7 linked regions of the Homo sapiens genome follow. The protein of the gene in region 7 purifies or fractionates together with the protein of the main gene of each other region. This does not show direct contact. Each region holds a gene or a part of one and is shown on either strand. Other genes may lie near its edges.

The links.
Region 1: the proteins of SV2C (region 7) and ABCC10 purify together in Homo sapiens (affinity purification with mass spectrometry; one large-scale study listed by BioGRID and IntAct). This does not show direct contact.
Region 2: the proteins of SV2C (region 7) and SLC25A10 purify together in Homo sapiens (affinity purification with mass spectrometry; one large-scale study listed by BioGRID and IntAct). This does not show direct contact.
Region 3: the proteins of SV2C (region 7) and SLC25A21 purify together in Homo sapiens (affinity purification with mass spectrometry; one large-scale study listed by BioGRID and IntAct). This does not show direct contact.
Region 4: the proteins of SV2C (region 7) and ERGIC1 purify together in Homo sapiens (affinity purification with mass spectrometry; one large-scale study listed by BioGRID and IntAct). This does not show direct contact.
Region 5: the proteins of SV2C (region 7) and MINDY1 purify together in Homo sapiens (affinity purification with mass spectrometry; one large-scale study listed by BioGRID and IntAct). This does not show direct contact.
Region 6: the proteins of SV2C (region 7) and HSD17B4 purify together in Homo sapiens (affinity purification with mass spectrometry; one large-scale study listed by BioGRID and IntAct). This does not show direct contact.

What each region holds. Positions count from the first base shown.
Region 1 is NC_000006.12:43,447,734-43,450,927, reverse strand, and holds the end of ABCC10 (ATP-binding cassette sub-family C member 10), read right to left. Parts: coding exon 2,991-3,194; intron 2,048-2,990; coding exon 1,902-2,047; intron 1,822-1,901; coding exon 1,724-1,821; coding exon of another isoform or gene 1,719-1,723; intron 1,507-1,718; coding exon 1,394-1,506; intron 1,000-1,393; coding exon 837-999; 3' UTR 501-836; downstream 1-500. Other genes in the region: DLK2 (protein delta homolog 2), read left to right, coding at 1-389. UniProt on the Homo sapiens protein: ATP-dependent transporter of the ATP-binding cassette (ABC) family that actively extrudes physiological compounds, and xenobiotics from cells.
Region 2 is NC_000017.11:81,715,284-81,718,397, reverse strand, and holds part of SLC25A10 (mitochondrial dicarboxylate carrier), read right to left. Parts: intron 2,921-3,114; coding exon 2,806-2,920; intron 2,706-2,805; coding exon 2,657-2,705; intron 2,390-2,656; coding exon 2,348-2,389; intron 1,587-2,347; coding exon 1,543-1,586; intron 1,397-1,542; coding exon 1,326-1,396; intron 1,000-1,325; coding exon 907-999; intron 642-906; coding exon of another isoform or gene 615-641; coding exon 537-614; intron 347-536; coding exon of another isoform or gene 230-346; exon of another isoform or gene 54-229; intron 1-53. UniProt on the Homo sapiens protein: Catalyzes the electroneutral exchange or flux of physiologically important metabolites such as dicarboxylates (malonate, malate, succinate), inorganic sulfur-containing anions, and phosphate, across mitochondrial inner membrane.
Region 3 is NC_000014.9:36,732,107-36,735,606, reverse strand, and holds part of SLC25A21 (mitochondrial 2-oxodicarboxylate carrier), read left to right. Parts: intron 1-1,033; coding exon 1,034-1,100; intron 1,101-3,500. UniProt on the Homo sapiens protein: Transports dicarboxylates across the inner membranes of mitochondria by a counter-exchange mechanism.
Region 4 is NC_000005.10:172,924,751-172,928,250, reverse strand, and holds part of ERGIC1 (endoplasmic reticulum-Golgi intermediate compartment protein 1), read right to left. Parts: intron 1,743-3,500; coding exon 1,682-1,742; intron 1-1,681. UniProt on the Homo sapiens protein: Possible role in transport between endoplasmic reticulum and Golgi.
Region 5 is NC_000001.11:151,000,403-151,003,902, forward strand, and holds part of MINDY1 (ubiquitin carboxyl-terminal hydrolase MINDY-1), read right to left. Parts: intron 2,567-3,500; exon of another isoform or gene 2,305-2,566; coding exon of another isoform or gene 2,216-2,304; coding exon 1,763-2,215; intron 1,428-1,762; exon of another isoform or gene 1,381-1,427; coding exon 1,323-1,380; intron 913-1,322; coding exon 848-912; intron 214-847; coding exon 55-213; intron 1-54. UniProt on the Homo sapiens protein: Hydrolase that can specifically remove 'Lys-48'-linked conjugated ubiquitin from proteins. Has exodeubiquitinase activity and has a preference for long polyubiquitin chains. May play a regulatory role at the level of protein turnover.
Region 6 is NC_000005.10:119,528,997-119,532,496, reverse strand, and holds part of HSD17B4 (peroxisomal multifunctional enzyme type 2), read right to left. Parts: intron 2,604-3,500; coding exon 2,517-2,603; intron 1,232-2,516; coding exon 1,093-1,231; intron 1-1,092. UniProt on the Homo sapiens protein: Bifunctional enzyme acting on the peroxisomal fatty acid beta-oxidation pathway.
Region 7 is NC_000005.10:76,128,383-76,131,882, reverse strand, and holds part of SV2C (synaptic vesicle glycoprotein 2C), read right to left. Parts: intron 234-3,500; 5' UTR 133-233; coding exon 1-132. UniProt on the Homo sapiens protein: Plays a role in the control of regulated secretion in neural and endocrine cells, enhancing selectively low-frequency neurotransmission.

The sequences.
Region 1 (3,194 bases), on a different chromosome or scaffold from region 7:
ACCCCCCAACCACAGTGGACACCCCTCTAGGGCCCACCTCAGCTGTAGTGGTACCTGCCACGGGGCCAGCCCCCCACAGCGCAGGGGCTGGTCTGCTGCGGATCTCAGTGAAGGAGGTGGTGCGGAGGCAAGAGGCTGGGCTAGGTGAGCCTAGCTTGGTGGCCCTGGTGGTGTTTGGGGCCCTCACTGCTGCCCTGGTTCTGGCTACTGTGTTGCTGACCCTGAGGGCCTGGCGCCGGGGTGTCTGCCCCCCTGGACCCTGTTGCTACCCTGCCCCACACTATGCTCCAGCGTGCCAGGACCAGGAGTGTCAGGTTAGCATGCTGCCAGCAGGGCTCCCCCTGCCACGTGACTTGCCCCCTGAGCCTGGAAAGACCACAGCACTGTGATGGAGGTGGGGGCTTTCTGGCCCCCTTCCTCACCTCTTCCACCCCTCAGACTGGAGTGGTCCGTTCTCACCACCCTTCAGCTTGGGTACACACACAGAGGAGACCTCAGCCTCACACCAGAAATATTATTTTTTTAATACACAGAATGTAAGATGGAATTTTATCAAATAAAACTATGAAAATGCAAGTGGGCTCCTATGCCAGAAAAACCCACCTGGCGTTCCAGATGCAAGAGGGCCAGAGCAGAGGCCTGGTTCTGGGGAAGCCTCAGGATGCTGCCCACCAAGGAGTGATTTCCAAAGAGTAATCCAGGGTGCCCTTTTCCCTTCTGGGGAAGTGTGGAGAGGTAGAGCCCCAGAGGAGAATGTAAACAAGCAGCCAGCACCTCTGTATAGGCCCGGCCTGGATCAGAGAGAGGGGAGAACTCTGCAGGGTGTGGGATTGGGCTCAGGGACCTCCGAGTGAGGCAGGGACTCCCTGCTGGCTGCTCTGCAGCAGCTGCTGGAACAGGGAGTGGGGCTGGTTGCGCAGGGTGGCCGGGGAGTCCAGCTCTACCACTCTCCCCGCTTGTAGCACCAGCACCCGGTCTGAGTTCAGGATCGTGTTGAGCCTGTGAGGGGGAAGATGGTCAGTGTAGGGGATGAGGGACAATGCCCTAAGTAAGAACACTGACCTGCTTTCCCTCCTCTCCCCTCGGGACACCACAGGTCTGTCCCCACAGGCTTTAGCCCCTGGCTTGGTGCTGGGGAAGGGACTGCAGAGTCCCTCAGATAATGTGCTATAAAGGGCCCTAGGCAGTGCTATAAAGGGCCCTCAGATAATGTGCTATAAAGGGCCCTAGGCAGTGCTATAAAGGACCCTTCTCGTCCCTGGAGAAGGAGGAGCTGAGATCTGGGGGGGCAGGATCTCTAAGGCCCTGACCACTGGGGTCCCTGAAAGCAACGGAGGCTCTCGGTGCATGCTACCACAGTCCCTGATTAGGCTGTTACCAGGCGTTTACATACCTATGGGCAATGGTCAGCACTGTCTTGTTGGCAAAGCGTTTGCAGATGGTCTGCTGGAGCAGCTGGTCTGTCTTCTGGTCCACACTTGCTGTGGCCTCATCGATACACAGGATCTGGAATATGGGAATGGGGTAGGGGATAAGAAGGAAGGAGAGGCTGCAGGGTGGGTTGGGCCTGGCCCAAGCAACAGCCCCTACCACAGCTCCCCACTTCCAGCTCTAAAAGGAAAATGAACTTGGTCCCCTAAAACCTCTCCCCACTCTACCTCCCCACCTCCCGGCCCCCAGCCTTCTTCCTGGCCCTCTCTAATGTCTCTTTCTCTCACCTTACCTTGGCATCTGTGAGGAGAGCCCTGGCCAAACACAACAGCTGCCTCTGCCCAAGAGATAAGCTCCGGCCCCCCTCACCCAGCTCACCATCCAGACCACCTGCAAGGAAAGCATCTTCGTTGCAGGGCCCAGGCCATCCCTGCTCCCTTCTTGCTCTAAGGTCAGGGTCCAGCACTCACCCATGGATGTAATCACCTCACTCAGGTGGCACTGCTTCAGGGCCTGCCACAAGGCCCTGTCCTTATGTAGGCCCTGGGGGTCCAGGTTTTCCCGAACAGTCCCACTGAACAAAAAGGGCTCCTGGGGGATGATAGCCAACTGGGATCTGGGGGACAATGACATGGAGTCTAGTGGTTGGAGATGTAGCCACTTCTGCTCCCAGCTCAGTTTCTGACTACAGGGCTAGCACCTCCATGAAAGCCTGGGTATGAGACCTGAACATAACCCCACTCTGCTCCCCACCCCATCCCCACCAAATGATCTGTTAGTAGCTGGGTACCTAGAACTGTGCCAGTGCTATGAGCAATACCAAAGAAACCAAAGGCTGGACTCTGTCCTCAAGGTGCCTACATTTCACGGAGGTGCACACACACAAACCAGACAAAACAAATGGGCTAAACTGTGTGGCACTGACTCCAGGGGTGGCAGTGGCTACGCAGGGAATGACCAGAGCGACTGAAAGGGCAGGTGACACTTCAAGGTTGGAGTGGGCCTAGAATTGGGTCCTGAAGACATGATGGAGCTATAAGGTAGGGCCACCACAGCTTAGAAGAGAAGGCAGAAGAGGCAGGCCTAGGGCTTTAGGATACAGCTTCCCTACCTTTTCCATGTCACCGTACTCAGAGAAAATGATACTAGGTTGACCTGGAGGTAAGGAAGGGTTGTATACCCTCCAGTGAGGCCACCTGAAGCCAAGGGCAACCGGTTCAGGTCTCAAGCTGTCTGAAGCACTGCCTGCTGAGCCTAGGACTCAGGGGATCAGTATCTTGGGGCACAAGAGTGGAGGGTGTATGGTAGGAAGTACAAGAAAGATGAAGCTGGAAAGGTGGCCTGGGTCAGGGCGAGGAAGACCTTGAGATCACCAGCCATGAATCTGGACCTGGGCACTAGGAGTTCGCTGTCCTTGCCTGCTCATCCTGTCCTCCATTTCAGCCCCCTGATCAGCCCTGGCTGCTGTGAGTTTATATAAAGCCTTCCTGGCTATGCCCTCCTCTAAGTGCCAGTAGTTCTGGTTCCCCCTTCCCCTCCCAAGTCCATCTCCCCCAGACCTGAGCTGGGCCAGCTCCAGCTGGCTGGTGTCCACGCCGTCCAGCAGCACTCGCCCTGAACTGGGCTCTAGCAGCCGGAAGAGCACCAACAACAGGGAAGACTTGCCGGAGCCTGTGCGGCCCACGATGCCCAACTTCTCTCCAGGCTGCACGCAGAAGGTCACTCCATCCAGGGCATTCGGCAGCCCTGGCCGGTACGCCAAC
Region 2 (3,114 bases), on a different chromosome or scaffold from region 7:
TTCTCCTGCCTCAGCCTCCCGAGTAGCTGGGATTACAGGCGCACGCCACCACACCCAGCCAATTTTTTGTATTTTTAGTAGAGAGGGGGTTTCACCATGTTGGCCAGGCTGGTCTTGAACTCCTGACCTCAGGTGATCTGCTTGCCTCGACCTCCCAAAGTGCTGGGATGATAGGCATGAGCCACCGCACCTGGCCCCTAATTTTTGTAATTTTGGTAGAGACAGGGTTTCAGTATGTTGCCCAGGCTGGTCTTGAACTCCTAGACTCAAGCAGTCTGCCTGCCTCAGGCTCCCAAAGTGCTGGGGTTACAGGCATGAGCCACTGCGCCGGGCCAAGAAGTCTTCTCTAAAAACAAAAACAAGGCAAAGGCATTCAAAGGCACAACCCTCTCCCAAGGCAAGTGCTGTGCAGAGACAGGCAACTAGAAGGGAGGGACACCCTTCCCCGGGTCCCCAGTGCGAGTGTCCACCCCCCGGAGAGGTGAGGGGACTCGCTGGGCTGTGCAGCCCAACTGCACAGGCAGGGCCCCACTCACCTGATACTCCCCCTTGGAGTTCATCAGGCGAGTCTTCAGCACATCCAGGGGCTGGCACAGGAACGTGGCACATCCACCCTGAGGAGGGGGCTCGTCACCAGCGGCCTGTCAGGTACGCCAGGCACCATCGCCGAATCCCACCCACGTGCCAGAACCTCCACCTGACTCCTAGGGCGGGCCAGGAACATGCTGGCGGGGGCACCAGGCTGACCCATGAGCTCCCAAAGCCCTGGCACCCCACTTATGAGCCCCAGGGGGCACTGCCAGATGCCCAAGGCCCCCGCCTCCCCCAGCCCTCGCCCCATCCTGGGTGCCCTCAGCGCCCAAGGCCGGCCCAGGGACGCCCACCCTAGCCATGCCGGCCACTTACTGCAATAAAGCTGGCGACAAAGTGAGTGAAGATGTTGTCAGAGAGGTACCCGGTGCTAAGGACCAGCTGCTTGGCCTGGTCGTAGCAGGACAGCTGCAGGGGCACAAGGGCGGTCAGGGCTGTAGGGGGGACCCCAGCTTGGGGAAAGCACACAGGGCCCCAGGCGACACCACCTGGCAATGGCCAAGCACCTGCTCCGTCTGTCCGTCCGTGAGGCCCAGACAGGGGAGGCACCTGCCCGAGGTCCTTCACAGGCTGCAGCCCTGACCCACCCGTGCCCCCCACCCTGCCCCACAAGGTCACAGCTGGTGGCTCCCCAGGAGGGTTTTGGCGCCCAGTGCCTTGTTCTATGGCCCCTCTGAAGATGGAGGTCAGTGGTCACAGGCACTGCCCACACCCACCCCACGCAGGAGGCCTACCTGGCCCACAGTGACTAAGGCCCCTCGGCTGGATGCCATGGTTGCACCCGAGAACAGTCTCCTGAGACCCTCTGCACAAGGAAGGGGTGAGGCAAGGGGTGAGGCAAGGGGTGAGGCCAGGCACCTGGCCCAAATCCCTCAGCGCCCAGTCTTCTACAGCGCTGCCCACCCTGCCTGCCCCCCAGAACCCTGCCTGTGCACAGCACCTGCCCCTCACCTTCACGAGCTACGCGGTACAGGCCATCCAGCGCATGGGCGTAGCTGCCGGGGACACAGAATGACCACATGAGACTCCCCCTGACCACCGGCTCCCACAGAGGGTCCTCCCAGGCCCCGAGGCAGGCCGGGGGTTCTCGAGGAAGCAGAGGCCTCATGGGCCTGAAGATCTCTCCCTGGGAACATGAAGCTGGTCCTGACGTCCCACAGCCACCTCGCCCGCCCCGCCCGGCCCTCAGGGAGGAGGTTCCATCGTTTCCAACAGAGTCCCTGGCTGGGCACCGCTCCTAGCATGCAGGCCTCCTGCCCGCCAGCCCCCGGGGTCCTGGGGGAACACAGTCTGTGTGCACAGCTAGAAGCCAGAACTCCCCAGGGGTCCTTGGAAGGGGCGGGGGAAGTGGCTCACACTGCAGTTGGAGCGGACCCCGGGCCCTGGAAAGACCCCAGGCCGTGGCAGGAGGGCACAGCTGCCCTGAGCTGGGCAGGGAGGCAGCGCCTCCTTCGGGCGTTTCTGTTGCATGCGCTCTCTCCATGCCTGGGGCGTTCGCCTCCGCACTCACCACCCTGGGGTGCAAACAGGCCCAGCCCCCAATCCAACAAGGCTCTCCCCACAGGAAGAACCCAAAGGTCCTGGGGGCGCAGAGTGACACCCCCGAGTCCAGAACAGCCGTCAGGACCCTCCATGGACCGTGCAGGCACCTCGGCCTGCTGGAGCCTCAGCTGGGTCACGGCAGAGCAGCCAGGGGTCCGCTCCCGCCCGAGCCTCCTGCACCTCAACCACCCCGAGAAGGCCGCCCATGACTCACTTGCGCCGCTGACCCTGGGGCAGCTTCACGTCGTTCTGCATCCTGAAACAGAAGCAGGTGGCGGGAGGGGCGGGCGGGCCGAGGGGCATGGGCAGCCCTGGCAGCACAGGGGAGCTCACGCTGGTCAGCGGGGCCCACAGGACAGGGCACGCCGGGGCTCAGGGACACCCACCCTCCTATGCCCAGGACACCAGGGTCTCAGTGGCTTATTCCAGGCTGACCCCACCCTGCAAGCAGCCCTGGCAGGCCCTGGCATGTCTGGGGACAAGAAAGCCCCTGGCCTTGCAGGTGGGGTGGGGGAACACCAACCTGACGTTGACCAAGTCTGCGGGCGTCCCCACGAAGCCTCCAGCTAAACCTGCGGTGACACAAACCCCAGAGATGAGCCGTGCTGACACACGGCGTCCTCGGCCGACCTGACCACCCCGCGCCCCTCCCCCTCCCGCCCGGCAGCTCACCGCTGACGGAGCCCAGCAACACCTTCTCGTGGAAGGGGAGAGGCCCCTGGCTGCCCTTGGCCACACGGTCCCGCACAGTCTCGTAGATGGCGAACCGAGTCAGGGAGTAGGTCATCTGGGGGAGAAGGGCCTGGCTTGGAGGGACGGGCACGCCCCACACCCCTCAGCCTCGCCACCCGGCCCAGCCAGGGATCCCCCTCAGCCCGAGGGGCCACAGGGACCCTGAGGGGCCTTCCCAAGGCCACTGTGCCAGCATGCGGCTGAGCCAGTTCACAAATCTAGAGCTGCACCCTGCTTTCTCACTCCCTG
Region 3 (3,500 bases), on a different chromosome or scaffold from region 7:
AATTCTCAACTTCTTGTTCCCAGAAGCACAGCTAGAAGTGGACCCAGTTTAAGGGAGCTGGAGTGAAGCTTGGGGGGTGAATCAGAGAAGCTGCAGCCCCATGTTAGCTGGATATCCTAAATTAGGGACATGTTATGGACTCATCAGGAAAAGTGATTACTCAGAAAATAATGCATAATATTCTCTTCTATTTATATATTTTAAGGTTTGAAATGAAGATATGGCATATATATGAAGATTCCAGGACAAAGGAATTTAAAATTTTGAATTCTAAAAATATAATAAGAAATAAATGGTGACTTGTTATAAATCTAACCATATGTCACTCATTCTTGTTTTTTTTCTAAAAATATCTGACCATGTTGCCCGTCAACACTGGCAAAGTAAACTGGCTCATGCCCTGTGATTTTACATATCAGCAAGGGAGTCTGACATTTCTTCTGTTGGCAATACATAGTCCTGTAGCTGGCCCTCTGTGACCTTCTTCCACTTCCATCAAGGAAGCCTGAAAATTATGACTAAATCAGGACGGGGCTGGAAGCTCTAGTACCATACCCACAGAGCTTGTTAGTTCCCTTGTATTAGTAAAGCTAAAATTGAAAATTTCATCACCTCCTTAGCCTCAGAAAGGTACAGTCTAATGGGTTCAGGTATAATCCTAACCTCATTTGGTTGCCACAAGGGAGGAAATGCAGGACTGTAGATAGCTTGAAGCTACCTGCCACACAACTGAGAAAATAAACTCAAGAGCCCTTAGAGTAAGGACAGTCAGATTCATCGTTAAGGTACAACTAATGGTCATGCTTAGCAACTTATCTAAGGGATTCCTGTCTCAGTATCACGTATTTACCTTCTGAATATCATAATGCTAATAGACATAAAATTTATTTCTTTATTTTAGAATGAAAGGAAGACTTCATGATTGGTGTGCTATGTTGAATAATCGGGAATACTTTAGGATTATCTTAACAAAGTCAGAAATACTTGTTGCCTAATTTCCTTACTCATAGGAAATCTTTTATTTCTCCAACAGGTTATTTGGTTTTTACAAGGGAATTCTGCCACCTATCTTGGCTGAAACCCCAAAAAGAGCAGTGAAGGTAAGCATTGCATGCGTTCGCACCAAGCAAAAGTAGGGCACAGTAACAGCTTCAGCACAACAAACTCTTAAGACATTAAAATGAATTATATATAAAGCACTAAAAATTTTAATGCAGAAATTATAGCATAATTTTTATTATAATTAGACTTGGTCAGTCTCTCAAATATGTAGATCAATTTGTAGATTTTTTTAATCAGGTAAAAGCATTCCATTCTAATGGGGAAATTATTCAAAAAACAACATGGTGAATAAAATTCTAGTAATCAAACCACAAAATAGCTTGGACCTTTCTTCAAAGCAACTCAGAAATTTTTCTTTGGAGAAACAATTATTAAAGAAAGAGAGATGGAGGGAAGAGGAAAGAGGAGAGGAGGGAAAACTTTTCTCCCTAAATCATTCCCATTTCATGAACAGAGTAAACCAATATACCATATTTCTTTATATATGATTCTCATATAACATAATTTTTTGGAATGCCAACTTCATTTTCCCCCTTAGTCTCCTCTGTTAAAATTCTCTATTCTGGTTCTTAACAAAAATTATTACTTCCACTACCCTGATTTCCATTTACTTAACCACATAACTGTAGAGGTTTATGTACTACTTGCTAGTTCAGTATCTGAAGAGGAACAGGGAGATCCAGCAGAATGTCCAGGGGCAAAAGAACTCAATCTGACTACTGTCTTCTCTCAGACAAAAGTCCTGATCATAGCGACTCTGACAGGCATTGCTCCCCTCCCCCGCACCACTGACATCACCAAATAAGGCTTTGTCCTTCCATAATAATGATAACCTAAACTTAAAGACTTACTTTCCAAGCAACATAAGGTTTTTTTTCACATACATTACTCATGTGTGTGAAATGTATTCGCAGTACTCCTGAAAGACAAGAAGGAACAGTTCATATACTTTTACTCAGTAAGTTCAAGAGGGTGACTGGATTAAAAATTATGATAAAATCACCCACATATATACATGAACATCCAACCTTTATATGATGTCAAAGTGGCAATTTAATAGGATTGAATTCAAGTCTAGAATTTGGAAAACAAAGCTTTAGAACATACTTTCTCTATAAACTCACCCTCTTTGTTGGTATAGGTTTTGTGATTTTATAGTATCACTTCAATACAAATTTTGTTATAAGGATCTGAATCACAGTAATGAATCTGGAATAAGTTCACCAAAGTAGACAAAAGAGCTGAATTGAATTATGAAATGGCTTTACTTGATAAAAGATTGCCCAAGTAAACAAATAGAGCAGAGTTCCTGTTCAAAAGGGAAGTCACTTTGTCTGCATGGAATAATATACTCATCTGTTCAGTGAGTTACATGTATAGATAAAGTAAACTAAAATTAGAGTTTTTCCTGGAATATTTTTTTCTTAATATTATGTGTTGGAGACAATTTAAACTTTAAGAGGATTAAGACTTATCAACATTAAGCAATCTTTTACAGAAAAAAATAGTTGAGCTTTATAAAACAGAGTCAGTCCCTATTTTCCAAAAGCAATGTTCTGTGCCAGAACAATGGTTAACAGATGAACTTTTGGGCAACTGAATATGGTGTATGTGTCCCAGACATCTTGTTTCAAGTAGATTTTACCTTAAAATTATTGAGACATATGGTAAGTTTGTTGGCTTTTTAAGTATAACTTGGAGTTAAGTGTATCTTTGCCAGATGGATAGCACTAGTTTTTCAACACAATTTATGAAAACATTCATTTTATAGATATTTATCTTAGGATTTGTGAGGAAAGCAATCACCTGATTTTAACGATTTCATACATCATAAACTGCTTCATTGTATGTCATCAAAGAAAAAAAATATTCAGAGACTGAGGGGGGCGGGGTGTGTGTGTGTATTCTTTGGTACTGACACTTTAGTTAAAATCATTACCATAATTAGAAACAGACAATCTTAAGTTTTTATGTACTTTATTCTTTGAAATGAGCTTTATCATTAAAGTAATAAGACTTACTGATGCTAAATAAATGAAATTTCTCCTTTCACAAATTAGACAGAGTTAATATTGTAGTTAGCAAAAGGAAAAGAAGACTTCAGAGAGACCAGCTGATCCCTCACAGATGGGCGGCACCATGGTTCCGGCTTCAGGGTCCAGTCTTGAGCTTCACACATACAGAAATACCAGTTTTCCCATGTGCAGTTTCTCAAGGACTGCCTTATGCTAACTAAATTCACAAGAGATTATAAACTATGAAGGCTAATTAGTTCACTACAGTATACCTATACCAATCATAGTATCTACACATACTAGATGTTCAGTTGATATTAGATGAATAAAGGAAACATATATAAAAAGAAACAGAAAGAAAACTTAAAAGAAAGAAACAAAGAAATATACATAGAGAGAAAATTCCCACATCCACTGTTCAGA
Region 4 (3,500 bases), about 97 Mb from region 7:
TAGCCCTGGAGAAGGCAAGGTTTTCTGTCCACACCCTCTCTCTGCTTGCACACTCTGGGCCTTCTTAGCTTGATCCTCTTTCCTGTCCAGCAGCTGAGGGTCCATCGTAGCTGCAGACATTTGTGGACGGCCGACGTCGGATGACATGTTACCATGACACAAAACGACAATGACCACGGCACCACACCAAGAATCATCTACCTCTATTACAACCAGACATTTGCACTCAAATAAGGAGGTGCTGCCGTATACTTATCCGTTGCTGGAGGCAGCATGAATGGGAACCAGACACAGCTGGAAAGCAATCGGGTAACAGAGCGCCAACCCTGTACATATCAGAGGCATTATTGCCACAGTGAAACACAGGAAACGACAGACACTTTCGGTGAGAAGACAATGACTTAGAAAAGCAGAGCAGAGTGGGGACAGATCACCTGAGGTCAGGAGTTCAAGACCAGCCTGGCCAACGTGGTGAAACCCTGTCTCAACTAAAAATACAGAAAATTAGCTGGGCATTGTGGCAGGCACCTGTAATCCCAGCTGCTCGGGAGACTGAGACAGGAGAATTGCTTGAACCCGGGAGGCTGAGGTTGCAGTGAGCCGAGACTGTGCCACTGCACTCCAGCCTGGGTGACACAGTAAGACTCCGTCTCAAAAAAAAAAAAAAAAAAGCACAGCAGAGCTGCAAGATGGACAACTGTGCTCCCATTACAACTGGAAAGTAAGAAAATCGTGGCTATGTAATAAGGTCAAGTACAAAAAGCAGACGGTAAACTGCAATCCATGCCTTGGAAAAAAAGAAAAGTGAGTTCTGCTTATGGACAAGGACTCACAGGGACACAGAAAAATGAGGTTCGATTTGTCGGGGGGGCAGGTCACAGAGGGATGTTTTCTTTGCCTTGGATCCCTGACAATGGGAGAGCAAACGCATTTCAGGAAATAATAAGAAAAGATGTGGGTTAAAAGGTGAGCTCAGGTGAGGAAATAAGAAAAATCCAGGTACCCTGTGCAGCAGTGGGTCTGCAGGTCTGCTTGAGCACACAGGCCTCCCGGGCCCATTCTGTGCACGTGTCTGGGGCCATGTGAGCTCATGTGTGTTGGTGTGCACGAAAGGTATGCGTGCTCTCCTGTCTGCGTGTGGAGATGTGCGGTTCTCTTTGATCTGGGCCAAGGTGCCAGGGAGCTAAGGAGGGCGAGGACTCTAGGAGGAGCCACTATCGATGGGAGGAGTCTGAGCAGGAGGAGAGTGAGGTGTGGGGGAGGCAGCCATGTGGTCACAGCTGACTGGGCCACCCACAGACCTGTTCTCACGGTGCGACCTGGAGGCAGAACAGATCCTGGTTCTGCCATAGCTCCCTGTGGGATCTTAGGTAATTAGTTCAACTAAGGATGATGATGTGGCTGTGATGAGAGCAACAATAATGGTAATAGCTGGTATCCACTGCGTGCGTGCGTCTGCTGTGCCCCGGGACAAGCCTTCTTCCTTCTCCATCAGGGTCTGGGTCTGGACGGGGCTGGGTCCACCTTCCCACTGGTTAGCTGTGGGAATGGAGTGTGAGCAGCAGCCTCCCTGCCTTGGAGTGGGTGCTGGACAGGCACCCCCACCTCTCTGCCCTCCCCCTCCCTGCCTGCTGTACTGGGCATCTTGGAGCAGAAGGCTGTTCCCAGCAGGGATACATACGGTTGGAGGTGAGTCTGTCTGCTCCCCCGAGAGCATTGAAAGCTCCGTGGATGTTCTGGACCTGTGGAAAAATGCAGTGAGGGGATGGTCCCCAGGACACCTCCACCTCCAGGCCTGGCCCTGGTTGTGGGGGATGGCCAGGTACCACCTGGTCTAGGAACCCTACCAATGTGTAAAAGGGGGCTCCAGCGGATTTGTGGGGAGCAAGAGGCAGCAGGGGCCTGGCACATAGTAGGCACAAGCTTGTTTCCCATCTCTAGCCCCTACTATGTGCTGCTCCATCCTGGCCCCTTCATATAATTTCATTTCATGCCCCTAATGATGTATTATTGGGCCCATTTTACAGAAGAGCAAATCAAGGCTTGGAAAGACACCAAAACTTGCCCGGCTGGTAAGTGGCTAAGCTAAACTCTGAAATCAGGTCTGTCTGACACTAAGCTGGACTCTTTCCATGAAGTCACACAGAAAATTCAAGTGAACATGGATTCTGGGTCCCAGAAAGTTTCTCCTGAGATCCCAGGGTCCTCTGAAAGGCCCATAGAGGAGTCCAGGCAGGGATGCCCCAGAGCTGTGGGCCCCCCATCATGTCTGCTGCAGAGAACGTATAGCAGATGTGAAGAAAACCCTCCTCCGGGCAGTGGGGTGGGCTGCTGTAGAGTAGGGCTGAAAACCACATCTCACCTTTTCTCTGAGGACAATGGGAAACCAGGTTGGCCTCAAGGAACATCTAAAGAAGGACAAGGCATACCTGGTAAATGGAGCATGCTACCATGGGCATGGTTAACAGGGGTTATCGAGCTAGACACCCTGGAGGCCTTCCTGGAGGAAATGACATTGACACCAAGATCTGGAGGAAAGTGGGAAGTTAAACTGGCAAGCAGCATGTACAAAGGCTTAAGTATGGAGACAGGCCCACGTGGCCCCCAGGAGGAAGGAGAGTGAGGTGTTTGAATAGAAGGAAGGAGGAGACATCGGAGAGGTACGTGGGGACATGATTCTGTGGCCACTCCAGGAGCAGTGGGCAGCAGCGGGGTGGCATAATCCCTGATCCTGGTCTCAGGCGGCTGATGTTTACTGAGCACTTAACACACCTGCATGTTCTCAACAAGCAATTCCTCAACAACTGGAAGGAACTGCAATTTCTCAACAAGGAAAAGGAAGTTTGTCTATTTGCTGTCTTGAGACTGACCGTGTGAAGGCTTCATTTCTAACCCATGAGAACGGTGGTTACAGAGACAAGAAGGCTAGAATGTTCTCTTCCATTGTCATGTGACATGGCTTTATCTCACATTTATTTGTACCATTTATTTTTATTTTTATTTTTTCTTTTTTTGGGAGGAGTCTTACTCTTTCTCCCAGGCTGGAGTGCAGTGGCATGATACCAGCTCACTGCAATCTCCACCTCCCAGGTTCAAGTGATTCTCCTGCCTCAGCCTCCTGAGTAGCTGGGATCACAGGTGCCTGCCACCACGCCCGGCTAATTTTTGTATTTTTAGTAGAGACAGAGTTTCACCATGTTGGCAAGGCTGGTCTCAAACTTCTGACCTCAAGCAGTTCGCCCGCTTCAGCCTCCCAAAGTGCTGGGATTACAGGAGTGAGCCACCGCACCTGGCCTGTACCATTATTTGATCAACATCTGTCTTCCCCCCTAGACTGGAAGCTCCAGGTGGGCAGGGACCATGTTTGTCCTCACCAAGGTATGCAAGGCCTGGACACGGTAGGTACTTTGTAAATATTTGTTGACTAGATGGATGGACAGAAAATGAATGGATGGATGGGCCCTAAGCTAAGTTCTGTACATTTTTTTAAAAAAATCAGA
Region 5 (3,500 bases), on a different chromosome or scaffold from region 7:
TCTCTCATGTCAGCTTGAGCTGGATAAGGTCCCAGTGGGCCCTCCCACCCTCACCTGTGGATCAACAAGCCAGCCATGGTACAGAGGTATGCCTAGCAGGTCAAAGACACTGCACTCGGGTGTATACTCAAAATCAGAGACGCCTGTGAATCGCACATTGACATCCAGACCTGTGGCCAGTTTAGGCAGCACTGTCATTGCATCATCCACATTCTGGGGGTAGAAAAAAAAATGATGGAGATTCTAGCCTTCTCTCCCACCACTCCACTCCCACCTGCAGAAATTAAAAATTAACCTTGCTGCTCTTCTTCCCTGATTCTCTTACAAGCCACTCCATTTCTCCCTTGCCTCAACCCTTCTCTATCTTATATAAATGAACATTGTTTTTCTTTGAGAGTCTAAGTCTAATTCTTTCATCCAGGCTGGAGTGCAGTGGTGTGATCCTAGCTCACTGCAGCCTCAAACTCTTGGTTTCAAGTGACCCTCCCACCTCAGCCTCCTGAGTAGCTGGGACTACAGGCACGCACCGCCATACCTGGCTAATTCTTGAAAAAAAAAATGGTTTTTTTTAGAGACAGGGGTATTATTATGTTGCCCAGGCTGGCCTCGAACTCCTGGCCTCAAGTGATCCTCCCGCTTTGGCATCTCAAAGTGCTGGGATTACAGGTGTGAGCACCCGGCCAATGAACATATTTTCTAGGACAAAGATAAACTCTCCTCTGACTCCTGCAGAATGAAATCATGGTTCAAGGAAACCTCTGAAGAAGCAACAAAAGCTTATCTTAGTATTACAAGATGTCCCCTTACAAACCTGCAAACCCCTATGCCTGCAGACCTTTTGCCTCACCTGCTGAAAATTAAGCTGAAGTCCCTCTGACTTCTCCTGGGGCTTGATGGACAGGAGGCAGTTTCCTACAAGACAGGGCCCCTTATCAGCTTACCCCACCAATCATCCCAAAAGCTAAGTTTCCTCTTCTCCTGGAGAATGCGGGTAATGTCACAGAACACAGATTTTCAGAGCTGGAAAATACTTAGAGTCTAATCCAGACTCTTCATTTCTCAGAGGAGGCGACAGCCTCATAAAGGTGAACGGCCCACCCAGGGTCAGATACAAAAGCTAAGGGCAGAATTGGTGTTACAACCCAGGACTCCCGACGCCTTTGCTTTTCATTCTCCAGCCTTGCAGAGAAGCCCCATAGACCCTTACCCTCCCTGCTGTATCAGAACCCCCAAATGGAGATCCCTGAATAGTCTGGATTTCTGGCTGAGTGGATAGCTCTGGAGCCCCTTGGGTAATTCCTCTTCAACGCCCAGTCACTCACCAAGATGGGCCATGAGCTCATCCGATGTGATCACTTCCTTCTGCGGGGGGAGCTTCACCTGGAGGCAGAAGGGGTGATCACGTGTGTGCTTTCCTCCAAAGAGCACTGAAGGAAGAACCCATGGAAAGGCAAGGGGGAGCTCCAGTAGTAGGGTGGGGTAGGAAAAAAGGCTTGCAACTGGCACAAGGGAATGAATGTGAAATCTTGCAAGGCATGTGCATTTGCTAGGGAGTAGGAGATACAGGGGTAGGACAGATCTTCCTCTTTTTTTTTTTTCTTTGTTTTTAGGAACATCTTATCTCATTTGCTCAAGCTGGAGAAATAGGGAGAACAATCTGAAAAGTTTTGACTAGTTTGAGGACATCAGGATGATCAAGGAAGTAAGTCAGGGAAGAGTACTCCCTGATATTTTTTGCACCCCTAACTGCATGTTCTCTTACCTTCCACTGAAGAAAGAGGATGTTCATGATGGCAAGGAGAGGGCAAGGGCCGTTAGTGCTCTGGGTGATGATGGGTGTCTGTTCTCCTTTCCAAGGGATCCACTTGACACAGTAGAAATCTGGCTCAGGCTGTCGGGTCCTGGGGGACTGAGGAAGCTCCTGGGGCATGGAGCATGCCCTTATTGTCTCTACTTCAGGCAGTGTCCCAAGGGTTGGCCCCGGTGGAGCTGAGCTAGCTTCAGGCAGAGGGGACTCAAGGTTGTCCCCACACTGGCTAGGCAGCAAAGCTTGGTCTGCTGGCTCCCGTTCTCTAGCCTCCCCATCAGCATCTCTTGCATCTGTGTCCTGAGGGTGCTCATCTGGGCCTGCCAGAACCTCATGGTTTTCAGGGATGACTGCTTCTGCAGTCCCGGCCTTACCAGGGGCTGGATCCTCAGGCTGATGGTATTCCATGGTCAAAAGGGACTTGGCTGAGGGGCACTGAAGGTGTTTACTAACCTCAGGGACTTGCCTAAGCCAGGCTTGGGATGCAAAAGAGTGACCTGTCCAATAAGAAGGAAATCAGTGGGCTGGAAAGCAAACTAACCCAGAAAAGTCTTGGAAAAGGAATGTAGTGTAGAAGGCTGGCTAGTGTTTGTGCAGTAACTCCTGGCTATGGGCAGTATATGTGTAAACAGAAGGGCCCCGTGCTGAGCTCTTTCCACCTCTAACTTGCTGTGACCAGATGAGACCAAGAGGTCGTGGGGCTTCCAGACTTGGGAGGGAAGACTGGTGGGATTGAACACATGGGTGGAGTCAGCTTCCCTGAAACAGATCATGACAGGGAAGGGAGGAAAGACAGAGAGAAAGGGAGAGCACAAAGGAGAAAGAAGGATAAGAGGTGGAGAAAGAAATGTTAAATCTACGCTAATGGTTATTAATATGATGATCTTTAGCTTACTCTAATAGGCATCACATCAGTAACCCCCTCATAGCCATGACAGAGATAATTCCTCTGCCCTACCCCACACCCTGCCCCTTCACACAACATACTAAGAATACACAGTGCTTGTATGTTTAGGGATACCTTCTCTCTGCCTCACCCAAGGATAAAAAGATTAAGTCACATAGTACTTGGGGTGAAGAATGGAGGAGGCACAGAGAGTCAGTTTCATGCCCCTAAAGGTGAAATGCTGGTGAGGAAGGGGAAGTCTTCCACCTCAAAGGGCTCTACTGAACCTTACACAATCCCAAACCACAGTATAAAGGCCTTGGGAGGGGTTTCCTGTAAGCTGGGAGGGGAAATGTAGGTGGTGGGGGCTGGAATCAGAGACTGGTTTTGATAAATAACTTCAGATTAGGGGCACAAAAAGCACTCCCCACAAGTTCTTCCAGTAAGCTTCTCTTTAAAAAAAATTAATAAAGATATCAAATTTCTTTTAATTAAACTGAGACAGGGTCTTGCTTTGTTGCCTAGGCTGGTCTTAACTCCTGGGGGCCCAAGCAATCCGCCCTCCTCAGCCTGCCAAAGGACTGGGATTACAGGCATGAGCCACGGTGCCTGGACCCAGTAAGCATCTCTTGACAGCTAGCATTGAGACAGCAACTTTTCCTCAGTTCATTTTTTTTCCCCAGAAACTACCTAAACCCAGAGGTACTCTCTTGCCTGCTATTTCTATGAAATATGAAAATGCTGATTATTAATTTACATAACAATACTTCCTGTACATTCACCTACCTAAAGTTTTATGTCTATTCC
Region 6 (3,500 bases), about 43 Mb from region 7:
TCAATTTCAGAACCTTTTTTTTAAAAGGCAGCCATACTATTTTCTAAAACTATGCTTTCTACATGGCTTTTAGCACTCATTCCAACATATACAGAATCAGGCTAGTTATTATGTGTTATTGACTATACTAGAAGCTAGAAATAGACAAACTGCAGCCATTTCTCAGGATTAAGCCCAAAGTCAAATGAGAGAAAACATACAATTATAAATGACCATAATACAGTAAGATAACTGTGACAAGCAACAGACTCTGCTGAAAGGGAATTCAGGGACTTACTGCTCTACCTCCTATCCATTTTCATCTTTTCAACCTAATTGAAGAATCTCTAGGAAAATAAAGGTGAGGTTAGAATATTCCATAATTAAAGTGTGTGCCATGATTAAGGATGTGAGTTACACAGCAGATGCAAAAGATCTGACAGAATATTTTTTCTTTATTCTTTTTATCCTCTAATTTCTCTTTCTTCACAAAATGGTACCAGGGTCTCTTTGGACCTCCACATCAGTGAAAAGAAATATGACTGCTTTCTTTCTGCGGCAAGATGTTTTATATTGGGTGCATGGCACTCTAATAGATAATTTCCCTAGATTAGATAAACAAACACCTTTGACCATAATCTGTATATATCTAGAAAATAGTGATTTTATATTGATAATTAAGATAATCCAAATTATTGTTTTGGTATGAATAAAATAATTTTGTAACTGTCAAATATCATGACTTAAAAATACTTCATTTTGACTTGATGAATTTGCCTTATGTTTAAGAAGCTGAAGATTAGATAAAGATGCATATAGCCAAGATGACTGTTTAAACTACTTTCAAGGATTACAATGAAATCTTAAAACAGGTTATTTTCATTTCAATTGATTCCCTACATCTCTTACACACACACACAAACACACACACACACACACACACACACACCCCCCTTTGGACATTCCCAAACCTATTCATTCCCACGGGAAAAGAAAAAAAACTTACCTAAAAAGGTAAGATTTACCTACCTTCAAAGGTCTTTAATTGTTAAAAAGATACTTTATTTACTAAGAATTACCTTAGAATATTATAAAATCAGGGCTATAACTTACTCCACTTAGCCCCAATATTTCCGCCTTTGGTTATATGCCACTCAAATACAGCATTTACTTTCTTCACCACCTCAGGCCCAATATCCTTTAGGCGGCGTCCTATTTCCTCAAATACAAAGGTACTCTGAAGCTTCCCGCCCTAACAACGACAACAAAATAAACTTTAAAAGTTCTGTAAAAATAACTCATGGAGAAAAGTGATTATAAAACATGTGCAAAAAAAAGATTTTTTAAAACTCTGTACATAAGTCAGTTTTCTTCATACAATGTGTCTTTCATACTTTCTTATTTGTATACATCACTCAGAACCTCAGTCCTCTTAATAACAGGATTTTACTTTTATTAGAATTCAGAAATAATATTTTAAAAGAAAAATAGGAACTGGACAACCTATGTTTTAGCTAACTTTAGAAAGATCCTGATCAAATTAATCAACTTCTATGGTCTCATTTTTTTTATTTATAAAATAATACTAAATTACATGAAGTCTGAATTTCTTTACAGCTCTAAAACTTAAGTTTTGGGTTTTTTTTGTTTTTTGTTTTTTTTTTTTTTTTTTGAGACAGACTTGTCGCCCAGGCTAGAATGCAGTAGTGCAATCTTGGCTCACTGCAACCTCCACCTCCCGGGTTCCCGTGATTCTCCTGCTTCAGCTTCTTGAGTAGCTGGGATTACAGGAGCCTGCCACCAAGGCTGGCTAATTTTTGTATTTTTAGTAGAGATGGAGTCTCACCATGTTGGCCAGGCTGGTCTTGAACTCCTGACCTCAAGTGACCTAACCACTTCAGCCTCCCAAAGGGCTGGGATTACAGGCGTGAGGCACCGAGCCCGCTCTAAGTTTTTTTTTTTCTTAGACTATTCTTAAGGGATTTTAATTTTCAGTCAGTTATATGGTTTATGACAGACAATTAAAGATCATGGGTATCGAAACCTCAACATTACAAAGTTAATATTTCAGAGATAGAATATAAACATTTTTATCAAAAGTCTCAGCATGCTAATAAATAATACAATGTTTTAATAAATTATACACGCTGCTGGTTTATATATTTGCATACAAAACTTTATATAAACCTTTAAATCAAGAAAAAGGTACAGGATATTCAACTTTTTAATCTATTTTTCTCCAAAACGCTGTTTGCTTAAGATTCTGATTAAACAACTGATTTATTTATTCTAAAACTAGAAAATTATGTTCTCTTGAAAGATATCCTAGTATCCTGCAAAACGAGTTTTTTAAAGTTCATAAATTGCCAGAGTATTCCTTCTATTCCAAGCTGTTTTGAATTAATGTTTTTCACTTCAAGAATTAAGAATAGTTTCATGGTTGTTAATTTTCTAACGTAGCCTAACCACTCTTAAAGTCACCTTAACTGAAATTCCTAAATGAGGAAGTGGCTTGGATACTAATTTTTATAACCTACCTCAGAGGGTGTCTTAGCTGAAGTACCAGATGTTGGTGCAAGATCCACATATGCATTTGAAATGACAATGTCTCCAGTTTCTTGGACCTTAGGAGGAGAAGAAAAAAAAAAGATTTATTCTGATTACAATGGAAGTGTAATTTCACTGTGAAACAGTACAAAGTTTAAAATTTATTATTTTTGCCTCATATGAAAAAGAATATAATAATCCAGATAAAATAAAAGGCTGCTAAAGTAAATGTCAAGATGAACAAACATAAAGGCTTTCTGATTTAATACAACTGTTACTAAACCTGGCTTTATAATCAGCTGGAGCCCTTTAAAACAAACAAACAAAGAAACCCTATGAGGTCCCATCCCCCAAAATTCTAATGTAAATACACTGATAGAGACTGGGCCTTGGTATTTTGGGCATTTTTTGGGGGGGAAGTGGGGATCAGGGGATGCACTCTTATAAACAGAATTCAGTCCATGCTGAATCCTTATAAATAGTAAAAGGCATAGCACAATAGCCACATGAGGTAATGGTACTCAAAGTACATTTGTTCTGCTAATATAGAATAAAATTGGCTAGGAACAAATCATAATAGTGTTTTTTAAGTAGTAATTCCAGGTCTTATTTCAAGAGGAAGTGTACACAGCATGAACTAAATGTCTAAATAGGCTTTTATCAAAATAGTCATTAAAGGAATTCAAATTCTAATTCCCAGTCCTTCATTTCAAATTATTCCAATGGCTATTCTTTCATAAAAATTGTTATTGCTACAAATGTATAGGATAAGTTTCTAAAGTTTAACATAGCGTTTATTAAAACTTTGATTTTTAACAATCAAGAAGATCATTCTCTTGACTACATCTCATCATATTTTGGAGGAAAAAAGATCTTTCAAGTAATTTGTTCACTTTACTTCAAATTACATACATTGAAAAGCATGGAAAGAGATAATTAATGAACAAAATGCACTTCAGTAAATTACTTTATTG
Region 7 (3,500 bases):
CCTCTGGGTGTATTCATCCTGGGCTCGGTCCACAGCTTGATTCACCTTCTTTACTGTTTGTTTCTTCACCTCTCTGGCAATGTCCTTGGCACCCTTCATCAGTGAAGTCCTATCCTTGTAAGAGTCTTCCATCTTATCTCAACTGATGGCCAATGAGAAGATGGGAAATTTTCACAGCCTCCTTTCAGTGGTTCAGCTCTGACAGCATCATCCACTTTGGGTTCAAAACAGAACTGCGAAAGAAGAAATAGAGGAGATACTTATTATTCCTTTCTATATATATATTTTTTACCGTCTATTTCTTGACCTCTTTTCAGTGTCCCACAAACTACAACACAGAATTAGTTTTTCCTTTTTTTTTTTTTTTTGATCTCACTGTATATACATGTACACCCTAGGCTGCTTCTCTGCTTAAGTGTGAGCATCACTTGGAGTATTTAGGGTTTTCGCTGCTATTATTATTGTTTTATTTTAAGGAATTCTATCCCCAGGGTAACAGTACACAGGAATTCCCCTGAGAATAAAACAGAGCATCTTGCATCTTTAAAAGCACGCCCAACACATTTTGAAATGCTACAAGCATATACCTTGATTGAGAAAAATAGTATTGCTCACAGACACGTACAAATATTGCAAAGACAAACCAGAGTATTAGAAGAATCCTACTGGGCCTATTTCCTCACACTGAAAAGCAAGCAGCCCCATATACAATTGCTATCAATCAAACTATAGCTATATTTGTAAAATTGAATTTCTCCCCTACTTAACATTGTGTTTCCTTCCAACAAATGGTAACAGAGACTCACATGGCACCCCAAACTGGCAAGGAGTATATTCCCATAGCATAGTGTCATATCCACAGGATTGTCAGAGTTCATCAAATGATTTTATGGCTGCATTTGATATTGAATTAGAACATATGGCTTGTTTGGTGGGAGTCTGCCCTTTCAGAAACTACCCCCAGGCCTTCAGGGACAGGTAAGCTCCATGCCATGTCCCTTCACAACCCCACTTCTATTTTCTTCATCTCTGGATACCCAGTACGCACACACACTCTCTCTCTCTCCCTCTCTCCCTCTCACATCCTCCCACCTGCCACTCTGGTTAGCTGCTGTTTTGGTAGTAAAGTCTGGACCTTCCAGGACCTGTTATTTGGTTTTCTTTTTCACTGATAGTCCCCTCATGCCTTGGTTCCTTAAATTCAGGCTGACCTCAAGGTAACTTATATTCCATTTGTCCACTCAGCTGCCTCTTCTGGTGGCTCATGTGAGTCACTGACAGGTTCATCCTTGTACACAGATGATAACAGAGGTTAAAAAAGTCTTTCTCCCCCATCATTAACTCCCCAAGCCTTAAGCTATGGCAGCATTCCAAACATTGATTTATATAATCGTCATTTCTACTTTTTCATTTTGTAGCTAGTTTAAAATATTTAAAGTAGCTATTACTAACATACATTTAATTACTCCTCCAAATGCCACAAACAAACCCAGCAATAAAGACAAACAGATGTTTGTTTATAAATGGACCATGCTTCATTCCCACTGAATACCTACAAATGCCCAGTAGGCAAAACAGGAGTATGGTTCTCACAGGCTGCGTTTTGGAAAATGATAAAATGAAATTAAAATAAACATATGATTGCAAGGTTTTTAACCAAATGTTTTAGTAAATGATTTTTCTGTTTGTTCTCCCCCAGCTCTTTTTTTTTTTTTTTTTTTTTTTTTTTTTTTTTTTAAGAACTGAGAGGAAGAGAAAGGGAGGAAGAGAGACATGGGAAAATCCATGAGAACAGTAAGAAAAAATGGAAAGGTGGTGAGAAGGGAGGCTGAGGATGGGGTGCTCAGAAACTCAAGAAGTCAGGGAAAAGGGGCAGAGAGGACAATGATGAAGTTGAGAGACATTTCCTACTTTAAAAATTAACAGAAAATCTGAATATTTCACACAATAAATAAAATAAACTGCCATCCTATCCATTGAACGGATGACCACATCAGACACTGCATATCAGCTGCTTCCTGTACATAATCAGCTCCAGAAATACCATTAAGTGAGCTCCAAATTCTGGTTAGTTGAAAGCAGAGTCTGAATGACCCTACAGCACTACCCCAGTGCCTTTCATAATGGAAAGCTTCTGCCATAGCTGTTTCCAAGAAATTGTATATCAACTGACTGCATTTGGCTTTTTTGCTTTTGTCCTCAGCCACAGGTATCCTTACCACATGCTTTACAGGGTTTTCATCCCTAAAGAGGTCCTTGTATAGGAGCCACCTCTGTAAGAGGCAAGAGGTATGATATCTTAAATGTCATAGTTATGGCTGGAAAAGTGGACAGTTCTAATCCCCTAAGTAGTCTAAGCACTTGAGCAATGAGAAATAAAATAAAACAAGAATTTTACAATTAAACATTCCAATTTTGAAAAAATTCTTGCAGAAATCTTAGTTTTAATTCCAGGACAAAACAAAGGATGTGCACATATAAGTTCTCTTTTTGTCTTTCAAGATTTCTCATCCCCCAAATCGAAGCTCAGGTAAGTTCCTTGAGGGAAGAGACTTGTTCTTTAGTTTGTAGTCTTACTAAAGCAAAGAAGATTTTTCTGTGCCCTTTCATAAACAAGAAATATGAATACTTATTCAAAAATGCTATATAAAATTAGATGTTTGTAGATATTGCCATTGGGGTTAGCTGGTGAAGGGTACAGGGGTCTCTCTGAATCATTCCTTACAACTGCATGTGAATCTACAGTGATTTCAAAATACGGAGTTAAACCAAAACCCCAAGTTTGTACTATCCTTATAAAGCCATCTTGGAATATGTGCAGGATGATTGGCTGGGGGCAGACTGTTCAGGGGCAGAGTTATAATTCTATGGCTATTATCTCCCTCTGGTAAATGGAAAAATGTGAAGAGCTTGGCTCATTCCAGATATTGCCAGGAAAATGGCAGATTTGTATCTACATGGGAAGGTTATGCTTGAATTAAAGCAGCACTTCTCAAGGGTGGGGCTTACACACCGGGTGTGGCCTATAAGAAGGTCCGCAAGCAGCTGTTTATAGCATCATCAATATTTTCTTTTGTTTCTCGAATCGATTATGGAGTTATGCCACATAATATATGTCAGACTTTGTTTCAATGAAAAACAAAACAAACCACCTTGATTTGGTGCTTACTATATGTCAGGCATTGTGCTAAAAACTTCCTGTACATTGTTTTATTCTTTTATTTAATCTTTACTTCAATCCTACAAAATAGACATTATAGTCTTCCATTTTACAGATGAAAAATTAAGGCTTAGAGAGATTAGCCCAAAGTCACAAAGCTTGTTAGAGGAGATGCCGGACTCAAGCTCAAATGTGTCTGACCCCAAAGCCTTACCCCTTATCTTCATCTGCCTCACCCAGTGGTCTCACTGAGGTCTTATTAAATGCAGTGGCCTTCTTCCTAGTCATTCCAGTATTCCAGTAACTTTTTTTCCTACACTAAAATTGTTTTATAACCGCT